Linked DNA regions of Homo sapiens: regions 1 and 3 are each linked to region 2. Evidence: fine-mapped expression QTL. A gene starts in region 2. Each other region holds a variant in brackets. All regions are shown on one strand. Distances are from middle to middle.

The links. PIP is the estimated chance that this variant, and not a neighbour inherited with it, causes the effect.
Region 1: its variant is the best candidate, but not a certain one, in a credible set for the expression of TNFRSF9 in whole blood (TOPMed, PIP 0.83).
Region 3: its variant is the best candidate, but not a certain one, in a credible set for the expression of TNFRSF9 in blood mononuclear cells (TOPMed, PIP 0.65).

Annotation. Positions count from the first base shown.
Region 1 is chr1:7,740,899-7,749,080 of GRCh38, forward strand. It overlaps CAMTA1 (calmodulin binding transcription activator 1), which reads left to right. Exons shown (of 23, transcript NM_015215.4): 17 at 3,937-4,124; 18 at 4,947-5,193; 19 at 6,812-6,883. Among named protein-coding and RNA genes, the nearest start is that of VAMP3, 26 kb to the right of the region's middle. The variant A/G (reference allele first, on the strand shown) is at 3,399.
Region 2 is chr1:7,937,200-7,945,374 of GRCh38, forward strand. TNFRSF9 (TNF receptor superfamily member 9) reads right to left here and starts at 3,640. Exons shown (of 8, transcript NM_001561.6): 1 at 3,585-3,640; 2 at 2,696-2,879; 3 at 1,522-1,629; 4 at 994-1,131; 5 at 491-557. The coding sequence starts at 2,795. RefSeq lists a silencer at 5,344-5,483.
Region 3 is chr1:7,908,584-7,916,765 of GRCh38, forward strand. TNFRSF9 (TNF receptor superfamily member 9) reads right to left here. Exons shown (of 8, transcript NM_001561.6): 8 at 7,288-8,182. It also overlaps a transcript of UTS2 not described here. Among named protein-coding and RNA genes, the nearest start is that of TNFRSF9, 28 kb to the right of the region's middle. RefSeq lists an enhancer at 2,306-2,807. The variant A/G (reference allele first, on the strand shown) is at 3,558.

The DNA.
Region 1 (8,182 bases), 200 kb before region 2:
AAAAAGCAGCAGTCTAAAGAAAGTTTTTTAGCCAAATGAGAAGATAACACTTAAAAATAATGAAATAATTTTAGAAAAAGTGGCAAAACCGTTCATAGAGGAGTGAACAATCAAACAGTAAAACTGAGCAATTATCGATAGTGTGGTATATGTGAGAGGAATTTGTTAGGAAGGGACTCTTTAAATAGAAGACGAATAATGTTTAAACTATCTCCTAGAACTAAAATTCTAAATTATTTTAACAAAACCAGGGAGTGTAGGGAAATGAAGAGAGTAAAAGTGTATGAAAGCTCTCGGGTTCAGGGACAGTAACAGATTTTGTTCCACTCGTGATATAGATAGATGTGCGCTGGATAGGCTGAAATATGCTAGTTAGAAATGTTGGCCGGGCGCGGTGGCTCACACCTGTAATCCCAGCACTTTGGGAGGCCGAGGCGGGCGGATCACGAGGTCAGGAGATCAAGACCATCCTGGCTAACACGGTGAAACCCCGTCTCTACTAAAAATATAAAAAATTAGCCAGGCATGGTGGCGGGCACCTGTAGTCCCAGTACTCGGGAGGCTGAGTCAGAAGAATGGCGTGAACCCAGGAGGCAGAGCTTGCAGCTAGCCGACATCGCACCACTGCACTCCAGCCTGGGCGACAGAGCGAGACTCTCTCTCAAAAAAAAAAAAATGTTAAGTTGGTAGGTAGCATAAAAACGGGCTACAGAAGGACAGGTGCGGTGGCTCATGCCTGTATTCTTAGCATTTTGGGAGGCCAAGGTGGGAGGATCACCTGAGTTCAGGAGTTCGAGACCAGCCTGGCCAACATGGTGAAACTCCGTCTCTACTAAAAATACAAAAATTAGCCAGGTGTGTTGGCAGGTCCCTGTAATCCCAGCTACTCGGGAGGCTGAGGCACAAGAATTGCTTGAACCCTGGAGGTGGAGGTTTTGCTGTGTTAGCCAGGATGGTCTCGATCTCCTGACCTTGTGATCTGCCTGCCTCCACCTCCCAAAGTGCTGGGATTACAGGTGTGAGCCACCATGCCCGGCCTCGGGTTGTTTTTTTTTTTTTTTTTAAATAAAAGCAGGATATACTATATGCTACTTGTAAGAAATACAATCAAAATGAAATGAAAGAGAAACAATGAAAATGAAATGATAGATAACAGCTATAATAGATAAACGAGTATAAAAAGAAAGATAAAAAGTACAATTCAAGGCAAATTAATGTGTGTGTGTATATATACATATATATATACATACAGTTTATCTAGAAGATATGACAGTTATAAACTATTGTGTACCTAGCACCATAACCTTGAAACATTACAGCAAATACTAGTAAATACAAAGAAATGTGGACCCATAATCACAGTGTGCTACTAACACACATAGCTCAGAATTTTTCAGATCAAGTAGATATGAAAAGCATATGAACAAGTTGAACAACAAAATCAGAAGGCTTGATTTCATATATATTTACTATATGATAGATTTAATATATGATATACTTATATATAACTATATGTGTGTATGTAGTTAATACACATAGCAACTACGTATATAATTGTTCTTTTCAGGTGTCCAAGGCATGTTTATGAAAACTGCTCATATACTAGGACACGAAGAAAATTTGAATAAAAATCCAAAGCTACCCATTTAAAGGCCGTCTTCTCTGAGCACAATCCATGAAATTTAGAAATGAGTGACGTGACTTTTCAGGTCCAACTACTGAGAACGTTACTTAAGATGTTTTTACATTGTTACATGTTTATAAAATGGAGGATTTAGGAAAGTGATTGTAGAGTGATAACCTTTTAGGCTTCAGAAATTCCACCTTACTTTTAATATATTTGAATACTTTCATGGAAAAAGAATAAAGCAAGATTTACTTCCTACCGTTTGAGTCACAAATCAAGACGGCCAATAGAGAAGGTGAAAGAAAGCTGCAATTTTTTTTTGAGACAGAGTCTTGCTATGTCACCCAGGCTGGAGTGCGGTGGTGCCATCTTGGCTCACTGCAACTTCCATCTCCTGGGTTCAAGCAATTCTCCTGCCTTGGCCTCTCTAGTATCTGGGATTACAGATACTGTAAGAAAGCACTAGGCCTGCACCACCATATCTGGCTAATTTTGGGGGTTTTTTTGGGTAGAGACAGGGTTTCGCCATATTGCCCAGGCTGGGCTTGAACTCCTGAGCTCAGGCGATCCACCCGCCTCGGCCTCACAAAAGTGCTGAGATTACAGGCCTGAGCCACCACGCCTGGCCCAATATATTTTTCTTAAATTTTTTATTTTTATTGTTATTACAAAAACGAATTGTTCTTTGATGAAAATTTATAAAATTATCCACAATAAGCATTTTTAACAGCTTTATTGAGGTATAATTTACGTATGATAAAAAATTTATAAAATTATCCACAATAAGCATTTTTAACAGCTTTATTGAGGTATAATTTACGTATGATAAAATTTACCCATTTTAAATGCTCAGGGGATGGCTTCTAGTAAACATATACAGCTGAGCAACCATCACCATAGTCCCTTTCTAGAACACTTCCATCTCACTGCACGGTGCCCTGTGCCCATCTGCAGTCCGTCTCTGCCCAGCCTTAGGCAACCACTGATCTGATTCTATCCCCAGAGGTTTGCTTTTTCTAGACATTTCATGTAAGTGGAATCATGCACCATGCAGCCCACTGCGGCTGTTTCCACTTAGCAGGATGTTGTTGAGGCTCCTTCGTGTTGGCAGGAGAAGCATTTTGTCACTTTGTATAGTTCCATCGAGAACATTTTCAGTTCACTTAAGAACCCGAAGTGCTGTGTTTCAGTTACCACTCCTAAGAGGTATGCAAGGACATTTTTAAGAATCAGTCCACATCTCTGATTCTCATAAAGAATATCTTAATCCAGACCAGCTTTGAGGATTCTTTTTTTCTTTTCTTTTCTTTTTTTTTTCTGAGACGGAGTCTTACTCTGTCGCCCAGGCTGGAGTGCAGTGGCGCGATCTTGGCTTACTGCAAGCTCCACCTCCCAGGTTCATGCCATTCTCCTGCCTCAGCCTCCCGAGTAGCTGGCACTACAGGCGCCCGCCACCACGCCCAGCTAATTTTTTGTATTTTTTAATAGAGACGGGGTTTCACCGTGTTAGCCAGGATGGTCTTAATCTCCTGACCTCGTGATCCGCCAGCCTTGGCCTCCCAAAGTGCTGGGATTACAGGCGTGAGCCACTGCGCCTGGCCTCTTTTTTTTTTTTTTTTTTTTTGAGTTGGAGTCTCGCGCTGTCGCCCAGGCTGGAGTGCAGTGGCGCGATCTTGGTTCACTGCAACCTCCACCTCCCAGGTTTAAGTGATTCTCCTGCCTCAGCCTCCCACGTAGCTGGGATTATAGGCAAGCACCACCATACCTGGCT[A/G]ATTTTTGTATTTTTAGTAGGGACAGGGTTTCATCATGTTGGCCAGGATGGTCTGGAACTCCTGACCTCAAGTGATCCACCCACCTCGGCCTCCCAAAGTGCTGGGATTACAGGCATGAGCCACTGTTCCCAGCCTAGACCGGGGTTCTCTAGGCCAGACAAAAGGGGGTGGTTAGATATTGGTTATGTAACTAATAGTGACACCTCATTAATATTACAGGTTACTCTAGAACTGCCCAGTGTCATTAATTGGTTGACCCTGAGAGTAGGGAGTACATACAAGCCAGAAGTTCTCCAAGACTGGACTAAAGGTTTGGGGCCAGACTATGACTTGGAGATAATCAGGTCTCAGGATCTCAGCACATTTTGGTGTGTTATGTTATAACCTTAAAATGGTATTTCATTGCATTGGATTGAGGTGGAAGTCTGCCCTCCTGCCTGATTATTTTTTTCTCTCCAAGGCGAGGCAGGGAGGTAGACCTGGATAACTTGTAAGGTTCCTTTCTAACCTGAGTGTTCTGTGAACTTCTGACTTCAGGTGAACATGATGACCTTGGCAGAACACATTATTGAAGCCACACCTGACCGAATCAAGCAGGAGAATTTTGTGCCCATGGAGTCCTCAGGATTGGAAAGAACAGACCCTGCCACCATTAGCAGTACAATGAGCTGGCTGGCCAGTTATCTAGCGGATGCTGACTGCCTTCCCAGTGCTGCCCAGATCCGGTGAGTAAAGTTACGGAGGTCACTACCCAGCATAGATTCCCGGATGTAATTGGAGGCAGGGGAGGCTGATTGTATTTGATGAATGCCGTGTCATAGAAGACCATACCAAGGAAGGAAGGAAGCATGAGGACAAGCTCTGTTGCCACTTTCAAGGCCCAGCTCCTATTCCTACCTCTCCCATTATTTTTTTTACTGCTATCAGAGCATAAGAGATCGTGTTAAGCTGGGCGCGGTGGCTCATGCCTGTAATCCCAGCACTTTTGGGAGGCCAAGGCGGGTGGATCACCTGAGGTCAGGAGTTTGAGACCAGCCTGGCCAACATGGTAAAACCCCGTCTCTACTAAAAATACAAAATTAGCCGGGCATGGTGATAGGCGCCTGTAATCCCAGCTACTTGGGAGGCTGAGGCAGGAGAATTGCTTGAACCCAAGAGGCGGAGGTTACAATCAGCTGAGATTGCACCACTGCACCCCAGTCTGCGCAACAGAGCAAGATTCTGTCTCAAAAAAAAGAAAAAAAAGAGAGATAATGTAGCATAATGTTTCCCCCTAATTCAGCTGAAGTTTTCTAATGGCAGTAGAGTGTACTGCTACTAGGTTTTAGTATTTAGCATAGTACTAAAGTTATGATAGGTGTTGAGTATAAACTTACTCAATCGAAGGACACTGGGTATGTTTAGCAACTTGCCTAACTGAATGAAGGCATGTTCCTAATTGCCCACAGTGGCTTCTGGCAGATACCATCTTGGCTCATTCATTAATATCTAATGGGTGGTGCAAATCAATCATTAATCTGTCTCTCCTTTTTCTCCTCTTGTTTCAGAAGTGCATATAACGAGCCTCTAACCCCTTCTTCTAATACCAGCTTGAGCCCTGTTGGCTCTCCCGTCAGTGAAATCGCTTTCGAGAAACCTAACCTTCCCTCCGCCGCGGATTGGTCAGAATTCCTGAGTGCATCTACCAGTGAGAAGGTAGAGAATGAGTTTGCTCAGCTCACTCTGTCTGATCATGAACAGAGAGAACTCTATGAGGCTGCCAGGCTTGTCCAGACAGCTTTCCGGAAATACAAGGTAAACTAGAACAGAACCTTCGTTTTGTGACATTCTTAAGATCAGAGAGGACAGATGAAAGTCAGAATCATGCGAACAAAAACATTTACTATTTCTTTTTTTCCTCTGAATTTGTAGAATTTTTTTGGAAGTCTCCAATTTATTAAGATTCACTATATAACATATCTGTGTGTGTATCTGCTTTGTAAAAATATTTTATGGTAAAATATTCATAACATAAAGTTTGCCATTTTGTCTGTTTTAAAGTGTGCAGTGTGGGGGCATTAAGTATATTCACAGTGCTGTGCAACTGTCACTGCTACCCATTTCCAGAGCTTTCTCATTCTCCCAAACCATTTGCTTTTAACAACCAATTTTTAAACAGTTAAACATGAAATTTTTATCAAATGTTTACAAAGTTCCTAAAGCACCTTCATAGAAGAGTTTCAGAAGCGTAGTCTTCTCAGTTATCTGAGGCATAGAGAATAACTGGCTGGGACAAGGGCCCATCCATGGTTAGGCCAGGGCGGGAATGGGGCTTTTCCGGCACAGAACAATGCTGATTTTTCTTTTTCTTTTTTTGAAATGGAGTCTCATTCTGTTGCCAAGGCTGGAGAAGTGCAGTGGTGCAATCTCTGCTCACTGCAACCTCCACCTCCCAATTCAGGTGATTCTCCTGCCTCAGCCTCCCAAGTAGCTGGAATTACTGGCGCGTGCCACCACACCCGCCTAATTCTTGTATTTTTAGTAGAGACAGGTTTTCACAATGTTGGCCAGGCTGGTCTCGAACTCTTAACCTCAAGTGATCCGCCTGCCTTGGCCTCCCAAAGTGCTGGGATTACAGGCATGAGCCACCGCACCCAGCCTTGATTTTCCTATTCTACCTTGCCATCCTGAGTACAATGTCTCTTTATTATTCCTTAAAACAAATTTCATGAGTTCATAGAATTTTTAATTAAAGTTATTAATGTCACATTAAATAATTCTCAGAAGCTTTAGTAAAATAATGTTAGCCAATAATGTAATGGTTATCACCATGTCAACATACTGTTGGTAATGATAATGCGTATTATTCAGTTAATATAAAGTAAGGTGACCCCTCTGCTGCTAGGAGGTCGTGACCTAAAGCAGGGGTTTTCAACTGGAGGCCTGGGGGCTGACTCCAGGCAGCCCCTGAACTCCTAAAATTAAGCAGTAAAGCTTTTTCTGTGTGCATTTTTGGTGGGAAGGGGACCCATGGCTTTCTACAGATTCTCAAAGTAGTCTCTAACCACTCCCAAAAAAGTGTTAAAAGCCATTAATCATTGATCCAAAAGTAAAGTAGTTGGGGTTATCTTAGGAAAGATAGTTGAGATCTGGCAAGACAAACAGTACAATGCCTAATTTGTTAAATACTTTAAAAGGGAATATATTTTTAGTCTGCTTAACATTCCAATATCATAGTTTTATTTAGAAGCAAGGATAGTCTAAGGTTTATTCTATAAATTCATTTTTCCTCATTTATAATTAATTATCAATATTTTTTGGTAAACCTGGGATCTCAACTCTGAGAAGGTGCATTAAATGAGTAGTAATAAAAAGCTGACATTTCTGGTAGTTAATCATTACTGATTTTTTTTCTCCTTACTTTACCCTTAAGGGCCGACCCTTGCGGGAACAGCAAGAAGTAGCTGCTGCTGTTATTCAGCGTTGTTACAGAAAATATAAACAGGTAAACCTCAGTTTTGCACCACAGAAGGAAACTGTGCCCCACCCAAGGCCACTGAAGATCCTGGTTTGGCTAAAGAGCACTACATCTAGTACCTCATTACAGAGACTTAATTTGTTTTTTGGTTGTTTTTTTTTTTTTATTTTTTTTTTGAAACGGAGTCTGGCTGTGTCGCCCAGGCTGGAGTGCAGTGGCATGATCTGGGCTCACTGCAACCTCCACCTCCCAGGTTCAAGCGATTCTCCTGCCTCAGCCTCCCGAGTAGCTGGGACTACAGGCGTGTGCTACCATGCCCAGCTGATTTTTCTAGTTTTAGTAGAGTCGGGGTTTCACCATGTTGCCAGGCTGGTCTTGAACTCCTGACCTCAAGTGATCTGCCCGCCTTGGCCTCCCAAAGTGCTGGGATTACAAGCATGAGCCGCAGCGCCCGGCCAGAGACTTAATTTGAACTGCCATGATAAAACAAACAAACAAACAAACAAACAAACAAACAAAAACAGGGGAAGCCACACATGATGGCGTGTGCCTGTAATCCCAGCTCCTCAAGAGGCTGAGGCCGGAGGATCTTCTTGAACCCAGGTGTTGATGTCCAGCTTGGACCTCGTCTCAAAAAAAAACCAGAGGAAAACAAAATAAAACCATCTGCAATTAGACTTGTACCGCAAAAGGGTTTTTGTCCAAATTTTTGATCTTTTAGTAATATTACCTACCTGAGATACTGGTCTGATCCTAACACCAGTATCTTTGCAGTGAGGATCCGTGGTCCAATACTTTGATAAACTCCCTAGTAATTAGAGAACTGTAGGGAATCCAGGGTGTGATACCGTGATTGGAGAAAGTAAATGCTGGCTATTTATTACCTTTGAGTTTGAATTATATAAGGTATTTAATCTTTGGCCATTTTCCTTTCAGCTTCTTATCCATTTTAAAATGAAGAATTGTTAAAATCTTTGAAAATCAGAAGAAGCTCAGAACATCTTAAACTGCTTTTGTGCACCTTAGTTAAAGGTGCAAGAAGATTATCTAAGTACTCTTTCATGCAGTATTTCTGTTTGCAAACCACCTTGTAGGGTTATGTAACTAGTCAGATGGGAAAGGGAAGTCATATTTTTGGGGCAGCTAGTATGCACTAGATTTTTTAGGTGCCCCATCTCATTTCCTTTTTACAATTATTTGAAGTAAGCAGTATTTATTTCCAGTTTACAGATGAAGAAGCTGAAGCTCAGAGAAATTACATGAATATTAGGCCTTTCTCATTATCAAGGTGGTTATAAAATATTAAAAATTGCCTAATGGAGTTTT
Region 2 (8,175 bases):
GCTCTCTGCTCTGGAGTGCGATGGTGCGATCATAGCTCATTGCAGCCTCAACCTCCCAGACTCAGGTGATCCTCCTGCCTCATCAGCCTTCCCTATAGCTGGGACCACAGGCATGTGCCATTATGCCTGGCTAATTTTTTGATTTTTTGTAGAGACAGGGTCTCACCCAGGCTGGTTTTGAACTCCTGGGCTCAAGGAGTCCTCCTGTCTCAGCCTCCCAAAGTGCTGGGATTACAGGCGTGAACCACTGCACGTGCCCAGCCTCCACTGGCAATTCTGATCTAGATGTTCCAGGCACTATTTCTGGAGAAAATGCCCACTTTGCCTATTGAGTTGCTACGACCTCACAGTGTTCCCACGCTGCCTATTAGTATGTTACATTCTGTCTACACTTGATGGGTGCAAAAAAGCTTCAATGATAGCATTCCTTATCTTCCAAAAAATTTAACCCAGATTCTTTATTCCATAAACTAAAGGAAATTATACGTACTTTGTCCAGGGTCGACAGATGCCACGTTTCTGATCGTTAAATGTCCCAAAGCAACAGTCTTTACAACCTTGTATTAAAAATGAAAGCAATAATAAAAGGGAAGCATTTTCATCATTTTGTAACTTTTCCTGTGATGAACTTAATATAAGTCATTACCATAATGCAATCTGCACAAATTGTTCAATAATTCTTGAAACAACACCCTAAGATGGCTAGTTTTTATTTTAATTGTACATAAAGTATTGTATATGTCTGGAACATGTGAAGATTAATGGTTCTGGCAATTAACAAATGTTCTGATTTCAAATTATTTCCATTTATGAAGAAATAACGGAAATATTTTATTAATTGAAATATTTTATTAATTAAAATATGATATATCATATACTCCCTTGTTACTTTAAGGTTCTACAAATCTGTTTGTTTATTTTCAAAGGATCAAGATCAAAGCTAAGTTTGTCTATGTCACAAAACTACACTAGATCAAAGAAACGCAAACGTACCTTTTTTTGTCAGTTCTTGACCTTGTTTACAATCCTGTTCACACATGCTGCATCCTGCCCCCAGGCAGTGAAACCCTGGAGTGCAGTCACACTCTGCATTGCTGGTGGAGGAACACTCCTTCCTGGTCCTGAAAACACCTACAAAGTCCCCCCAGCCCCCAACATTTTATTACACTTGACCTCCAAATCCAGGAAGCGAATTTATGCTCTGCAGTAAAAATCATGCTCACTCTACTTATAGTGTTCCCAGTAATTTTAAAGTTTACTTTTAAATCTCCATAAAGACATTTTTACATTTAGGTAAGTAAAAACTTCTCTCTTGTCAAATGAATGTTTCCTCTAATATTTAGAAAGCTCAGTCCACAAATAATTGCTGTCACTGGATATTATTGTCCTAGACCTGCTGGTTGGCAGAAGAATCAGTCTTTGACACTTGAGATTTTCAAAAGAGAGCAGTTAGTAAATGGGAAAGAAAAGCTTATCTTCCCAACTATCTTCTAGAAGAAGAAAATATCTTTGAACTCATACCTTTACACTGCCTGCATATGTCACAGGTCCTTTGTCCACCTGCGCTGGAGAAACTATTTGGAGGACAGGGACTGCAAATCTGATTCCTGTTATTATCACAGAATGTACCTAAGAAAGGCAGACAATAGTGGTACACGTTTGACAATGGGCAATCGTCACCCAAGGCATTCCGAAGTTTACAATAAAATAAGATTATAAAAGAATGATGAGTTTTCTAGATGCCACAGTGGTGGACATTAGTTTGATTGACTTCCTAAAACAATACATTTGCAAGATTATTCTTTGTGTAATCACAGAATTAGAAATAACAAAATACAGGCCAGGTGCAGTGGCTCACGCCTGTAATCACAGCACTTTGGGAGGCCGAAGCGGGCAGATCACCTGAGGTCAGCAGTTCAAGACCAGCTTGGCCAACATGGTGAAATCCTGTCTCTACTAAAAATACAAAAATTAGCCAGGCGCAGTGGTGCACACCTGTAATCCCAGCTACTCGGGAGGCTGAGGCAGGAGAATTGCTTGAACCTGGGAGGCCAAGGTTGCAGTGAGCTGAGATCGTGCCACTGCACTCCAGCCTGGGCGACAGAGTGAGACTGTGTCTCAAAAAAAAAAAAAAAAACATACACACACAAAAAAAACAAAAAAACCAGATATTGTAACAAATAAATCAACAGAAAGAAAATACTTTATCTATTGAATAAAACAAAATGATTATCTTGATTGATGTAGGAGATGAATATGACTGGATCCAGGAGGACATCAATGTCCTACACTAAAATTTAAATGCGACTGACCGTCCCCACTCTGTTAAGCCCTTTACTACGCGCTTACTCGCTGCTATGCCCCCAGTCGGAGCACAAAGCCCTACACACAAAACTAACATTTATTGAAGTCTTGCCTTGTGCCATGCACTGTTCTAAGCCCTTCATTTGATCCTCCCAGCCATCCTATAAAACAGGTTCTCTTATTATCCCCAGATGAGAAAGTCAAGGCACAAGAGGTTGAATGACTTTGCTGTGTTCACACAGCTAGGTTGTAGCATCCAATAAACATTTGTAAATGAATGAATTTTCATTTTCCTTTCCTTAAAAGGGAGCTCGTTAGCCCTGACTACTAGACTAACTGAACCATACTTCCAACAGAGCAGATCAAATGCACATGATAACTGGGTACTCACCAGCTGGGCAGTTACTACAAGGATCCTGCAATGATCTTGTCCTCTCAAAGTTGAGGACCAGCAACAGAGTGGCTACTATGTTGTAACAGCTGTTTCCCATGATGAAATCTGGCACAGGTATGATACTAGCAAAGCTGATTCCAAGAGAATTTTAATCAAATTAGCTGGTCTCACAAATGTCACTCTGCAAAAGATAAACATTTCCAAGGAAAGGTGGTTTCTCCTTTCAAAATTATCTATATTGCAATCATTACTTATACAATTCTATAAGAGGATAACTCAGGGTTTTTCAGGAACAATTAATGATGCAATATTACGGAAAAGTAGCAGATTCATAGAAACCACTAGGACAAGGCAGGCGTGATTAAACACACAGCTTTGTGCCGGTTTGCCAAAGTTTGAGGGTGCATTTTCCATCATGTTCTGCCAAAATGCAGAAATAACAATAGCAAGAACTTTTGGGGACTTTCATAGGTACTTTGCAGTACCAACCAGCAATAATGCCAATTACTTATTGCCCCTGAAATAAACTCCTTACAAAGAGAATCTGTCAGGGGCATCAGACAATTCAGTTCAAGAAGAAGCTATCACATAATCACTCTTCCCCCTTTAGCTGAACACCTAACTACTAACATGTGGAAAGACCTCCCTGTTCAACTCACTAACACATTTTCTTAAACAGAGACATGTTTTGAGATGTGAAGTTTGTATGGTAACAAAACTAAGGAGTGAAAAACTCTTCAGGCTAAGTTATTGATGTTTATTTAAAGGGCTATTGAAGAGAAGTTATTACATATTAGGAGAAAAAGTCTAGAAATGGGCAAAGGGAGCAAAAGTTCCAATCTCACCCCTTCTCAGTGCCCCCACCCACTCCCCCAGATGGACAGACCTTGAGATCTCAGGGCTGCCGGAGAACTTTCCACTCCTTGGTCTTCAGGCTTCTGCAGCTCGAGAGGACTTCAGGTCAAACACAGGAGTGCGGTGACTCAGCCAGGGGCGGGGTCTCATGGGAAATTCCCACCACAGCTCTGTGACAGCCCTATGAAATCATTCATTTCATATCTGCTGACCCCGAAATCCCCTAGAGCCCCCGTCCCTGCCTGATAATGGCACTTCAAATTGCTTCTTGGAAGCAGCTCTCTACTGTCAGGATGTGTCACAGATGACGCTGGGAAAACGATTTTGTCCCTTAAGATAGCTCTCCAGGACAAAGCATTTAGCATGTCCTTAAAACACTGGATTTGAGATTAGAGGAATGAAACCAAATTCAAAACAGTGATCAGCATTTTGCCATATGCGGTCCCCTAACTCCATAGTCACTGTAATGCAATAGCTGCCATTACTTGAGCACAGCCGATGTGCCAGGCATCAGAGATGCACTGCGGTGAATACACACTATCCTCGAAAGAACCCTAGAACTTGGTATGACTGCTGTTGTTACTGGGAGAACACTATGCAAATGAGGAAAGTGGGGCTGCAAGTGGAATTAGAGCGTCAACAGGACAGGGAGCAGGCAGGGTTGGAACCCAGGTCGGCCTGGTCCCTTATCGTGCTCCTCCGGGCATGGGTGACAGAGGGAGGAAGGAGGGAGAAATGGAGGGAAATGGAAACAGGGGAAGCACAGCAGTCACACGGCAAGTCAATGACCAGGACGTGGTTCGGTGAAGCTGAGAGCTAGGAGGGATTTTTAGAAAACCATGATTTCAATTTTTCTTTAAAAAAAAAAAAAGGAGAAAGAGACCAGGCGCGGTGACTCATGCCTGTAATCCCAACACTTGGGAGGCCGAGGTGGATGGATCATCTGAGGTCAGGAGTTTGACACTAGACTGTCCAACATGGCAAAAACCTGTCTCTACTAAAATTACAAAAATTAGCAGGGAATGGTGGCGGTGGACCCCTTTAATCCCAGCTACTGAGGCTGAGGCAGGAGAATCGCTTGAACCTGGGAAGTAGAGGTTGCAGTGAGCCGAGATTGCGCCACTGCACTCCAGCCACAAAAAAAAAAAAAAAAAGAAGAAGAAGAAGAAGAAGAGGAAGAGGAGGGCAGAGAAAGCAGAAGGAAAAAAAAGTACAGTAAGAGGAGAGGAGGAGTATAAGGAGAAAGAAGAGGGAGAAGAGGAGGAGGAGGAGAAAAATAAAGAGAAAAGGAGGAGGAGGAGGAAGAAGAAAAGAACAGAAAGAGAAGGGGAAGAGGAAGAGGAGAAGGAAGAATGAGGAGGAGAAAGAATGAGACGGAAGAATGAGGAGAAGGAAGAGTGAGGAGGAGAAAGAATGAGAAGGAAGAATGAGGAGAAGGAAAAAGGGGTGTTTCTGGAGGAGGAGGAGGAGGAGGAGGAGGAGGAGGAGGCGGCTGCTCCAGGCTGTAGATGAACCTGCCCATCATTGAGCAGCTGGAGAACCTCAGGAAAACCAGGGGAACTGTGGCTGGGGCAGGCGTGGGCTGGGGAAGGACATCGAGAGTAGCTTGGGCCGTCCTCCTGCCCCGCGGTTCCCAGCACGAGCTCTCCCGACAGAAGAGGAAAACGCGGCGCGACTCGGTTGGGGGACAGCGCTGAGATGCGGACAGATGCGGACGTTCTGCCGCCGCCTGCAGGCAGAGGGACTCGGAGATCAGGCCGCAGAAGCAGAAGAAGGCAGACGGGAAGGAGGAGGAAGGAAAGGAGCCTTGTGGCTTCGTGTCCGACCCTCCCGCCCTTGGCCCGCGTGCCTGGAGCCAGCCCCACCGCGCCCGCGTTTCCTCCCGCGGGACTTCCCTTGGCCCTGGGTCTGCAGCGGGTCCTGCCGAGCTTCCTTCCCTCAGGCAGCCTCTCTCTCCCTGGCCACTCTCGGGGGTGAGGGGGGTTACCGGTTCCCAGTGATTTTTATTCCCTTTGCTCTCTCACGCCTCATGTTCCCCATTCTCCTGCCTCAGTTGTGTAATCTTGAGCAAATTTCTCAACCTCCCTAACTCTGTTTTTGCAAGCACATCTTACAGGTGCAGTGACACCATACATCTTCCTCGTGAGTGAGGATTAAATGAGACGATGAGCATGAAATACTTAGCTCAATGCTTGGCACATAGTTCTCAAGAAAGTAGGAATTGCTATGATCAGACTTACTGGTTTGAAATGTTCCTTCCCTGCCTCCCACACTGACCATCAGTAGAGCCACCACAGGGCAAGTCATGACAGAAAAGGAGAAAAACGCATGAGCTGCCTGCAAAATGTGTTCCCAAATACTGACGGTCATCTGAGAGTTATCTTACCTGTGACATCTGTGGGATCCCTCCTTGCCCCACTTTGGCAGAAATTGGCTGAATGTGAGAGTGTCACACCATAAAAATCGGACTGCTGATCCCCTCCTAACACTTTGAAAGTCACCATCTAACCAAGTAATCTCCTTGTTTACATGTGGTACTCTGTTTAACATTGCAGTGTGACATTTAACTGGGCCATATTTCATTTAACTAAATGCTACTCACTAGTCTACGTTTTGGACATTCTGTAGGCAGAGACATTACTTCCTCTGAAAGTGACATATTTAGTTTCCCAGCACAGTAATTAGCTCACTATTTCAGGCTTTTATGCCAGTAACATAAGAGTCTTTACTGAGCTAAAAGAGTCTCAACATTAGTTTTGCCAGCCCACAGTTAAACAAAGTCAACCACTTCAGAATTCTGCTACTGAAGGCTATGCTCAACTTTACTCAGGCGTTTAAAAAATTCATGGCTGGGAACAGTGGCTCACACCTGTAATCTCAGCACTTAGGGAGGCTGAGGCAGGAGGATCGCTTGAGCCCAAGAGTTCAAGATGACCTGGACAAGATGCCCAGACCCTGTCTCTACAAAAAATACAAAAATTAGCTGGGTGTGGTGGCATGTGCCTGTGGTTCTAACTACTTGGGAGGCTGGGATGGGAGGATTGCTTGAGCCTGGGAGGTCGAGGTTGCAGTCAGCCATGTTTGCACCTGTGCACTCCAGCCTGAGCAACAAAACTAGACTGTCTCAAAAAAAAAAAAAAAAAGAATTCATGTTACTGCATGCATTTTTGTGTGGTATAAAATCATCGTAGTAAGCTAAGTCAAATTATATAGTTAACCAGATATACATACTATCTAAGCTAGCCAAAGGTGTAATACTCTTTTGGTATAATTTTCATTTGCTTTATAACATGTATCATATTGCTTTATCCATTGTAGCCCTGTAATCTTTCAAATGCAACAAAAGCTTTTTCTATTCCATAAAACCATCTCAAACTAAATCAGAGATGACCCCGACAAGACAGCAACACTTTAGCAGTATTAATAATATTAATAATATGTTTCATCCATCCTAAGCAGTATTAATAATCTGTTTCATCACATCCTAAGCATCTCATTCTAAACCAAGAAATAGGCCGGGTGCAGTGGCTCATGCCTATAATCCCAGCACTTTGGGAGGCTGAGGTGGGAGGATCACAAGGTCAGGAGATCGAGACCATCCTGGCTAACATGGTGAAACCCCATCTCTACTAAAAATACAAAAAAAAATTAGCAAGGCGTTGTGGCAGGTGCCTGTAGTCCCAGCTACTCTGGAGGCTGAGGCAGGAGAATGGCGTGAACCCGGGACACGGAGCTTGCAGTGAGCCCAGATCGTGCCACTGCACTCCAGCCTGGGCGACAGGGCGAGACTCCATCTCAAAAAAATAAATAAATAAATAAAATAAAAAAAAAATAAATAAATAAATAAACCAAGAAATAGATTTTATTTCATTTTGATTGACTATAGGTCTAATCTTGAATATCTCAAGCAGCTAAATACTTTGAGGCTAAATAGCATGAAGGCCCAACAATTCTAAACAGGATAAAGGAGACATTTAGAAAGAGAAAGCCCTCAAAATAAGCTTCCTATAAAATATTCTTCCGCCCTTCCAGGGCGCATCTTAGAGGGAATCTCTTCCGTGGGATATTCACTGTTTACACTTGTTTTCTGCCTGAAAGATCTATTCTTTCAAGATTCAGTGTCGCCACCCCTACTCCAAACACCCAAACTAGTAGTCACTATTAGACATACCTGGTGCTTGTGATGTCAGTAGGTGTTCTGAGGCCTGGGAAGGAGTAAATTGTTTTTAAACTTGGAACAAAGAAAATGAGCAGGAAATCAAAGAGGAAGGAGGCAGAGTAAGGAGAAGGAAGTACGAATCATAAGGAGAGGCGGGTGTCAGCAGCCATCGACTTTGCTCACCTTTCCTCCTTGTTCTGCCCTTTCTCCAGGTGGCATCCACTCATATGCTAAGGCTTATCAATAGTTGTCTCCAACTTCAGACCACCCCCAACACTGTGCAGTCCCCAGGACAAGAGTACAAACAGAGGCCTGCTTACCATGTGTCCAAATATTTAGAAATTGTTCATCAATCCAAATACGCTGTTAAGTATGTTCTGTCCAGAGCAGAGACACAAACACACAAACACAATGAACACAGAGCTGCGTCTGTGACTGGGTGTCTGGCGCACGGTGCTGGCAT
Region 3 (8,182 bases), 29 kb before region 2:
CTGGGCCTTGACTTCTATTTCCCCTCTGATTTAGAAATTTTGTGGCTCTGCGTCATTGATTGGTATGTAAATTGGCATATATATTACTCTGTTCTCATGCAGCTAATAAAGACATAATTGAGACTGTAATTTATAAGGAAAAAGAGGTTTAATGGACTCACAGTTCCACATGACTGGGGAGGCCTCACAATCATGACAGAAGGCAAAGGAGGAGCAAAGGCACAATTTTTTTTTTTTTTTTGAGACGGAGTTTTGCTCTGTTGCCCAGGCTGGAGTGCAGTGGCATGATCTTGGCTCACTGCAACCTCCACCTCCCAGGTTCAAACCATTCTTCTGCCTCAGCCTCCCGAGTAGCTGGGACTACAGGTGCGTGCCACCACACCCAGCTAATTTTTGTATTTTTAGTAGAGACTGGGTTTTACCATATTGGCCAGGCTGACCTTGTGATCTACCCATCTCGGCCTCCGAAAGTGCTGGGATTACAGCCGTGAGCCACCATGCCTGGCCTCAAAGGCTTATCTTACATTGCGGAAAGACCTGCCTCCATAATTCAATTACCTCCCACCAGGTCCCTCCCAGGACACACGGGGATTATGGGAGCTACAGTTCAAGATGAGATTTGGGTGGGGACACAGCCAAAGCGTATCAGCGTAGCTTTTTGAAAGTTAATTAAAAAATATTTTTTAGTACTGGGCTTACGCCTGTAATCCCAGCACTTTGGCAGGCCGAGGTGGGCGGATCACCTGAGCTCGGAAGTTCGAGACCAGCCTGGTTAACATGGTGAAACCCCATCTCTGCTAAAAATACAAAAATTAGCCAGGCATGGTAGTGCACCCCTGTAATCCAGCTACTCAGGAGGCTGAGAGAGGAGAATTGCTTGAACCCAGGAGGTGGAGGTCGCAGTGAGCTGAGATCGCACCACTACACTACTCCAGCCTGGATGACAGAGCAAGACTCTGTCTCAAAAAAAAAAAAAAAAGAAAAAAAAATTTAGGTCAAAAGAGGAATTTTATTTTTAAAAAGTTCTTAAACAGCACTATTTTATATTTTTTTTTGAGACGGAGTCTCACTCTGTCACCCAGGCTGGAGTGCAATGGCACAATCTCGGCTCACTGCAACCTCTGCCTCCCAGGTTCAAGCAATTCTTCTGTCTCAGCCTCCCAAGTAGCTGGGACTACAGGCGCCCACCACCACGCCCAGCTAATTTTTGTATTTTTTGGTAGAGACGAGGTTTCAACATGTTGGCCAGGCTGGTCTCAAACTCCTGACCTCAAGTGATCTGCCCGCCTTGACCTCCCAAGATTACAGGCGTGAGCCACCGCGCCCAGCCTTAAACAGCACTCTTGTGCCACAGAAGCACACACAGTACAGTCATTTTCATCTGCAAAGCATATGTATGTGTTAACCTTACACAAGCCATCCAGGAACTTGCCTTTTAAAAGTAACAGCGTGTTGTTTAAGGAGGATTCATTTGTAAAGCTTAATATATGACATTGCTGGAGTTCAAAATGAAGGCCTCAGAAGCAAGTTTTTCTCTAAACTTCTCCTGCCCTCCTGTCTCTGGCCCCTCATTCTCCCCGCAAAGGCTACCATGAAACATGAATCCCCCTTCCCCAAGGTGGGTCACAGAAACCAGAACCCCTTTTTCCCAAAGCCAGCCTTAAAACCTGAGAAGATTACTCTAACTCCCCCTGCCCGCCCACCCTGCCTTTCTTTGTAAAAACCGGCCATAAAGAAATTCTCTGACCTACCTTGTTTGGCTGTAGGTCACCAGGCTCCCATTCCAGAGAGGGTCCTGCCTCACACCCAGAAGGAATGAAGGCTGCACAGAGAGGCCAAGAAGGCCCTACACAGAACCCCCAGGGTCTCCCCACTCAGTCCACTAGCATCAGATCAGAGCCTTTTTGTCCAATCCTATCTCTACATGGCTGTCCATACTCTGTTGAACCTAAGCATAAAAATTGACGTCTGTATCTTTGGGTCTTCATTCTGAAGGCTCCCATGTAACATAAAACTATGATCAAATAAATTTGTATGCCTTTTCTCCTATTAATTTGGCTTTTGTCAGTTGATTTTCAGGAGCTCTTTAGAGAGCAAAGAAGAAATTTTCCACTGGCCCCCAACAGAATATTTTTTGTTTGTTTGTTTTTGGGATTTTTTTCAGACAGGGACTTGCTCTGTCTCCCAGGCTGGAGTGCAGTGGCACAATCATGGTTCACTCAACCTGTTGGCAGCCTCAACCTCCTGGGCTCAAGTGATCCTCCTGCCTCAGCCTCCCAAGTAGCTGGGACTACAGGCGTGAGCCACTACGCCAGGCTAATTTTTTTAAATTATATTCTGTGGTGACATAGGCCTCATTAACCCTCATTAACTTGCCCAGGCTAGTCGTGAATGCCTGGGCTCAAGCGATCCTCCCATCTCGGTGTGAGCCACCGTGACTGCCTCTACAGAATGCCTTACATCAAAGGGAAGCCCAGGCTCATTTCAACTTCCCAGTACTTTTGTAGTGAATAAGGAGGAATTGGGACCCAAGACGGCTATCAGACCGCAAAGGTGCACAGCGGGTGTCCCCCACATTACACAGTTTGCTTCGATTGCCTTCTTGGGACCTCTTAGAACCAGGGTCTATATTTGGAAACAGCACAATTGCAGGATGTGTGATCATAATTGCACTGAATTATAAGCATTTCTTGCATCAGAAATTCTAAATTACTTAATAGAAGTGAGTGTTATTGTACTGAGCATGGCTAAATACGTTACTCATGTTTATTAAATGAGAATCCAAGAAGAGCATTTACTGGGTGCTTGATTTGTGTGAGGCACTGGGCTAAATACCTTATTCATTTATTCTTTGAAACAGCCCCACGTAATTTTACAGATGAAGAAACCAGGGTTTAGAGGATTATGTAAACTGCCTAAGGACCCTCTGCTACGAAAAGGTGGTGGCTGCAATCCAACCTCAAAATTACTGGGTCCAAAGCCCGTGAAGTTAACCCTGACACTAAATGGCCTCAAAATTGTTTAATTAAGTATATCAGGCCAGGCACAGTGGCTCACCCCTGTCATCCCAGCACTTTGGGAGGCCTAGGCAGTGGATCACCTGAGGTCAGGAGTTCGAGACCAGCCTGGCCAACATGGCGAAACCCCGTCTCTACTAAAAATACAAAAATTAGCGGGAGTGGTGGCAGGTGCCTGTAATCCCAGCTACTCGGGAGGCTGAGGCAGGAGAATCGCTTGAACCCAGGAGGCGGAGGTTACAGTGAGCCAAGATCGCGCCACTGCACTCCAGCCTGGGCGACAGAGTGAGACTCTGTCTCAAAAAAAAAAAAAAAAATCAGATGGAAGACTTTTCTGTGGATTCTGGCTTGTTATATACCTTAAATAAACAACAGTAGTGAAAAGAAATCTTTAAGAACTATCATCCAGGGATTTCTTTGGTATGCCAGCATGTGCTGGTCAAATACCATCTTATCTCCCTGATCTGGGTTTGACAGGCTCATCTCTTTCTCACTGTGGTCACACTGTTTTATTTCTGTGAAGAAATATGAACCTGAAAG[A/G]GGGAATTCTTCAAGATAGATCCCTAGTGGCTAACTGAGCCTAAATTTAAAATAGAGCCAAATGGCTAAAATAGTTAGCCATTTGCTAACTAGAAGTCACACAGGTACTCTGAGATTCCTGAAAACCAGCACCTTCTTAATGTTGGGACTTTTGGAGCTCACCTGCCTCCACCAACCAGGGCTCAGCTGTATCGACTAATGAGGACTCAGCGGCATAAACCAATCAAAACTAAGCAAGTTTCAGTCTTTCATTTGCATAAACAGACCTGATTGGGAACCTGGGCAGGAACTTTATAACACGCAAATCCCCCTTTTCTTGTTGTTTTTCTTTGAGATGAAATCTCACTCTGTTGCCCATGCTGGAGTGCAGTGTCATGATCTCAGCTCACTACAACCTCCACCTCCCAGGTTCAAGTGATTCTTCTGCCTCAACCTCCTGAGTAGTTGGGACTACAGGTGTGTGTCACCATGCCCGGCTAACTTTTTTATATTTTTAGTAGAGACGGTGTTTCACCATGTTGGCCAGGCTAGTCTCGAACTCCCAACTTCCGGTGATCCCTCTGGCTCTGCCTGTGACCTCATGTGCCCTCCACTGGGGCCCCCACAGAGTCCAGAGCTGTCCCTGGAACAGCTCTCCTCCCTCCCCAAGCTCCATCCCAGGACTTCTCACTCTGCCCTGCCAGGAGCCAGCAGTCCCCTCTGCAGTATTCCTGTCTCCATTCACTTGTAACCACGTACCCCCATTTTTCTAAGAAATCGTTTATTTTTTTTTTCTCTCTCTCTCTCCTTTTCTCATTCCCCTGGTTCCCCACTTCCTACTTTGCCCTTTAAAATGCAAGTATAGCTTTTTCTTTTTTTTTTTTTTTGTTTTTATAGAGGGCAAGTTCCTCTAACTCTGTGCTCCAAGACTCTCCTCAAGAGCTAATAGTCGATTTACAAACCAAAGCATGCATGCCTGCTACGGAACTCCCACCCTCCAGGAGGTTGCCTCGGAACTCCCTCCCACCAAGAGACGTGAGAGATATGGGACTCTGTCCTACCTGGGGAGTTTTCGGCCTAGTCCTGCCCATGAAGGCACCGGCAGTCTCTAGCTCAGCCGCCCAGTAGATAAAGCACTAGATCTAGCCTGCAGACCACGCCCGGCCCTGCTCACTTCCTCCCCTGCCTTTTCAACGTGCCGTCTTTCTGCTCCAAAGGTGAAGCGGGACACTTAAGATAGGACACCTGTATTTCTTCCCCTAAGCTAGCTTTGGGATAAATCACTGTCTTCATACCACACCTCGCTCTTGTTAATCGGAGTCTGCAAGTGAGTGACTAACCCGCGTTTCAGTTACACCCTCCCTGCAGTCAGGGAGCACTTTCTAAAAGGCAAATCCAATCAAATCTCTTCACTGGCTTCCTAGTGACCACATGTTAAAATCAAAGCTGCTTTTTTTTTGTTTTTTTTTTGTTGTTGTTTAAGAGACAGAATCTCACTATGTTGCCCAGGCTGGTTTTGAACTCCAGACCTCAAGGGATCCTGCTACTTTGGCTTCCCAAAATGCTGGGATTACAGGGTGAGCCACTGCTTCTAACTAAAATCCGAGGGTTTTTTTTTTTGTTTGTTTTTCTTTTTTTTTCTGGAGTGCAGTGGCGCGATCTCGGCTCACTACAAGCTCCGCCTCCCGGGTTAACTCCGTTCTCCTGCCTCAGCCTCCCGAATAGCTGGGGCTACAGGCCTCCGCCACGACGCCCGGCTCATTTTTTGTATTTTTTAGTAGAGACGGGGTTTCACCGTCTTAGCCAGGATGGTCTCTATCTCCTGACCTTGTGATCCGCCCGCCTCGGCCTCCCCAAGTGCTGGGATTACAGGTGTGAGCCACTGCACCCGGCCAAAATCTGAGTTTCTTATATAACTTATAAAATCTGGCTCTCTGGTCCCTGCTCACCCTGTGGCTTCCTTCCCCTCTCCTCAATCCCAGCCCCAACTCTCCCTCCCATGTGCCTGGGCCCATGGCTCCTTCTGAGAAGCACACTGCCTGGACAGGCATCGCTTCCTCTGCATCCCGCTTTCCCTCCCTTCCCTCTCCCCCCTCCCCCCTCCCTCCCCCGCCCCCTTCCCTCCCCCTTCCCCCTCCCCGTCCCCCAACTCCATCCCTCCCTCCCCTGCCTCCCAGCGGAGCTCCCTGGTGCACAGCTGCCCCTTCCCCACATCCCCCCCACCCGCCACCGTGAGCACCAGGAGGGCAGCTGCTCTCACTCCCCTTTTGCCGTCCATCCATGGTGCTTGGTGCCTGGTGGCGTTGTGTTGAATGAAGATTCCTCTTAGAGAAAGCATCTTGTACCCCAATGTGGATCTTAACACGTTGGACATGTCATTCCCCTCGAATGAAAGTTCCCAGGCAGGAAGTGAGTTTTACCTTATCATGTGGATGTGTGGATCTTATCAGGTTAGACATGTCATTCCCCTAGAATGAAAGTTCCAGGTGGGAAGTGAGTTTTATCCTTGTGCTTGTGTCCTGATGTGGTTCCTGGTGCAGAGTAGACACCTGGATGGCTGCTAGTTCAGTGAAGGAGTCATTTGGATCCAATAGTCAGCATCTTCAATGAATGTGTCAGAATCTGCCTCTTCAATGAATTTGGAAAAGTTGTTTGAAAGGCTTCAATGGCTTAGTGAATTTTAAATACAGCTATCTGAATCAATATTGATGTAACAACAGTTTTTTCTTTTTTTTGAGACAAGGTCTCACTTTGTCATCCAGGTTGAAGGGCAGTGGTGCATTCATGGCTTACTGCAGCCTCGACCTCCTGGGCTCAAATGATCCTCCCACCTCAGCCCCCCAAGTAGCTGGAACTACAGGCATGCACCACCATGCCTAGCTAATTTTTTGTATTTTTGGTAGAGATGGGGTTTTACCATGTTGCCCAAGCTGGGAAAACAGCATTTTTTTTTTTTTTTTTTTTTTTTTCCTGAGACAGAGTCTCACTCTGTCTCTCGGGCTGGAGTGCAGTGGTGTGATCTCAGCTCACTGCCACCTCCACCTCCCAGGCTTAAGTGATTCTTGTGCCTCAACCTCCCGAGTAGCTGGTATTACAGGCGTGTGCCACCATGCCTGGCTAATTTTTGTATTTTTAGTAGAGATGAGGTTTCACTATGTTGGCCAGGCTGGTCTTGAACTCTTGGCCTCATGTGATCCACCCGCCTCAGCCTCCCAAAGTGCTGGGATTACAGGTGTGAGCCACTGTGACTGGCCAAAAACAGCATTCTTCTTTTTTTTTTTTTTTTGAGACAGAGTCTCGCTCTGTCGCCCAGACTGGAGTGCAGTGGTGGGATCTTGGCTCACTGCAACCTCCGTCTCCCAAGTTCAAGTGATTTTCCTGCCTCAGCCTCCCAAGTAGCTGGGATTACAGGTGCATGCCACCACGCCCGGCTAATTTTTGTATTATTTAGTAGAGGCAGGGTTTCACCATATTGGTCAGGCTGGTCTTGAACTCCTGACCTCTGGTGATCCACCCCCCTTGGCCTCCCCAAGTGCTGGGATTACAGGTGTGAGCCACTGCACCCGATCAACAGCATCCATTTTTATGTAACTAATAAGTCAATTGTTGAAAGCAAAAGGAATCTCATACTGGAAATCTTTAGCATCCTTCGGCACTAAAAGCCAAAGTTTACAAAGAATGGCACCTTATTTCATGATTACCCTTTATGATATGATGTTGCAACAGTTATAAAAAGCTTTTTAAAATAAGGTCTTTTTTTCTTATTCTTTTTTTCCTGTGAACATCATAGTTTTGTGTTTTATTAGATAGTCTTTTAAATAAAAACGTTGATAAAGATCACTCTCCAAGTCCTACCACACACAGGGCACATGTAACCTGCCCTAGCTGCGGTGGGCACCTCTCACCCACAGATGGAAACATCTTCCTGTGGGGGAAGATGCCCACTTTATAGTCATCCGCCCCTCACATCAAAACTTTCCGTCAGAGTGATATCTTCCACTAAAGAAAAAAAATTAAAACTTTCTTCTGAAAAAAACCTGAGCTTGTTTTTAGCATTTAGAAAATGATTTATAATTTGTGTATCCCTAAATGTGCTAATTTATTTTTAATCATAGAAATTTACATTTATTTCTATTAAACCTAATTATGGAACTTTCTAAATTAAACCCAGAAGGGGATCATTTTATTCTGTCTCAATGTTCCTTCCTTATTAATTGTCATTTAGGGGGAGCAATGACTCACATGCCAAGTTCCTGTGTTTTTCATTTATAGCTTTTGCACATGATACCAGAATAGGCTATGATAAAAATATCACAGTCTGTATCATAAACATAGCCTCCTTTCTTCACAGAATAAACTGTGGATTTTCGGTGTGTAACCTAGGACACATGAGAGCCTCGCTCCATTATCTTGGATACCCCAACCCTGTGGGGCATGACCAGTCTCTTTCTGTTTGTGGATAGTCAGCAGTAGGTAATTAAACACCATGTGTCCAAAGCCAAGAGGAGAAATCACTTTAGAACTTACAGCATCATGATTCAGAAAGACAAAAATATTCGCACCTAGCTTTGTTCCTGAAATGGCACCAGTATACTTCCTAAGCTTTGCTTTGCCTACTATTTGGCAAGAATTGTACAGCCAATAAT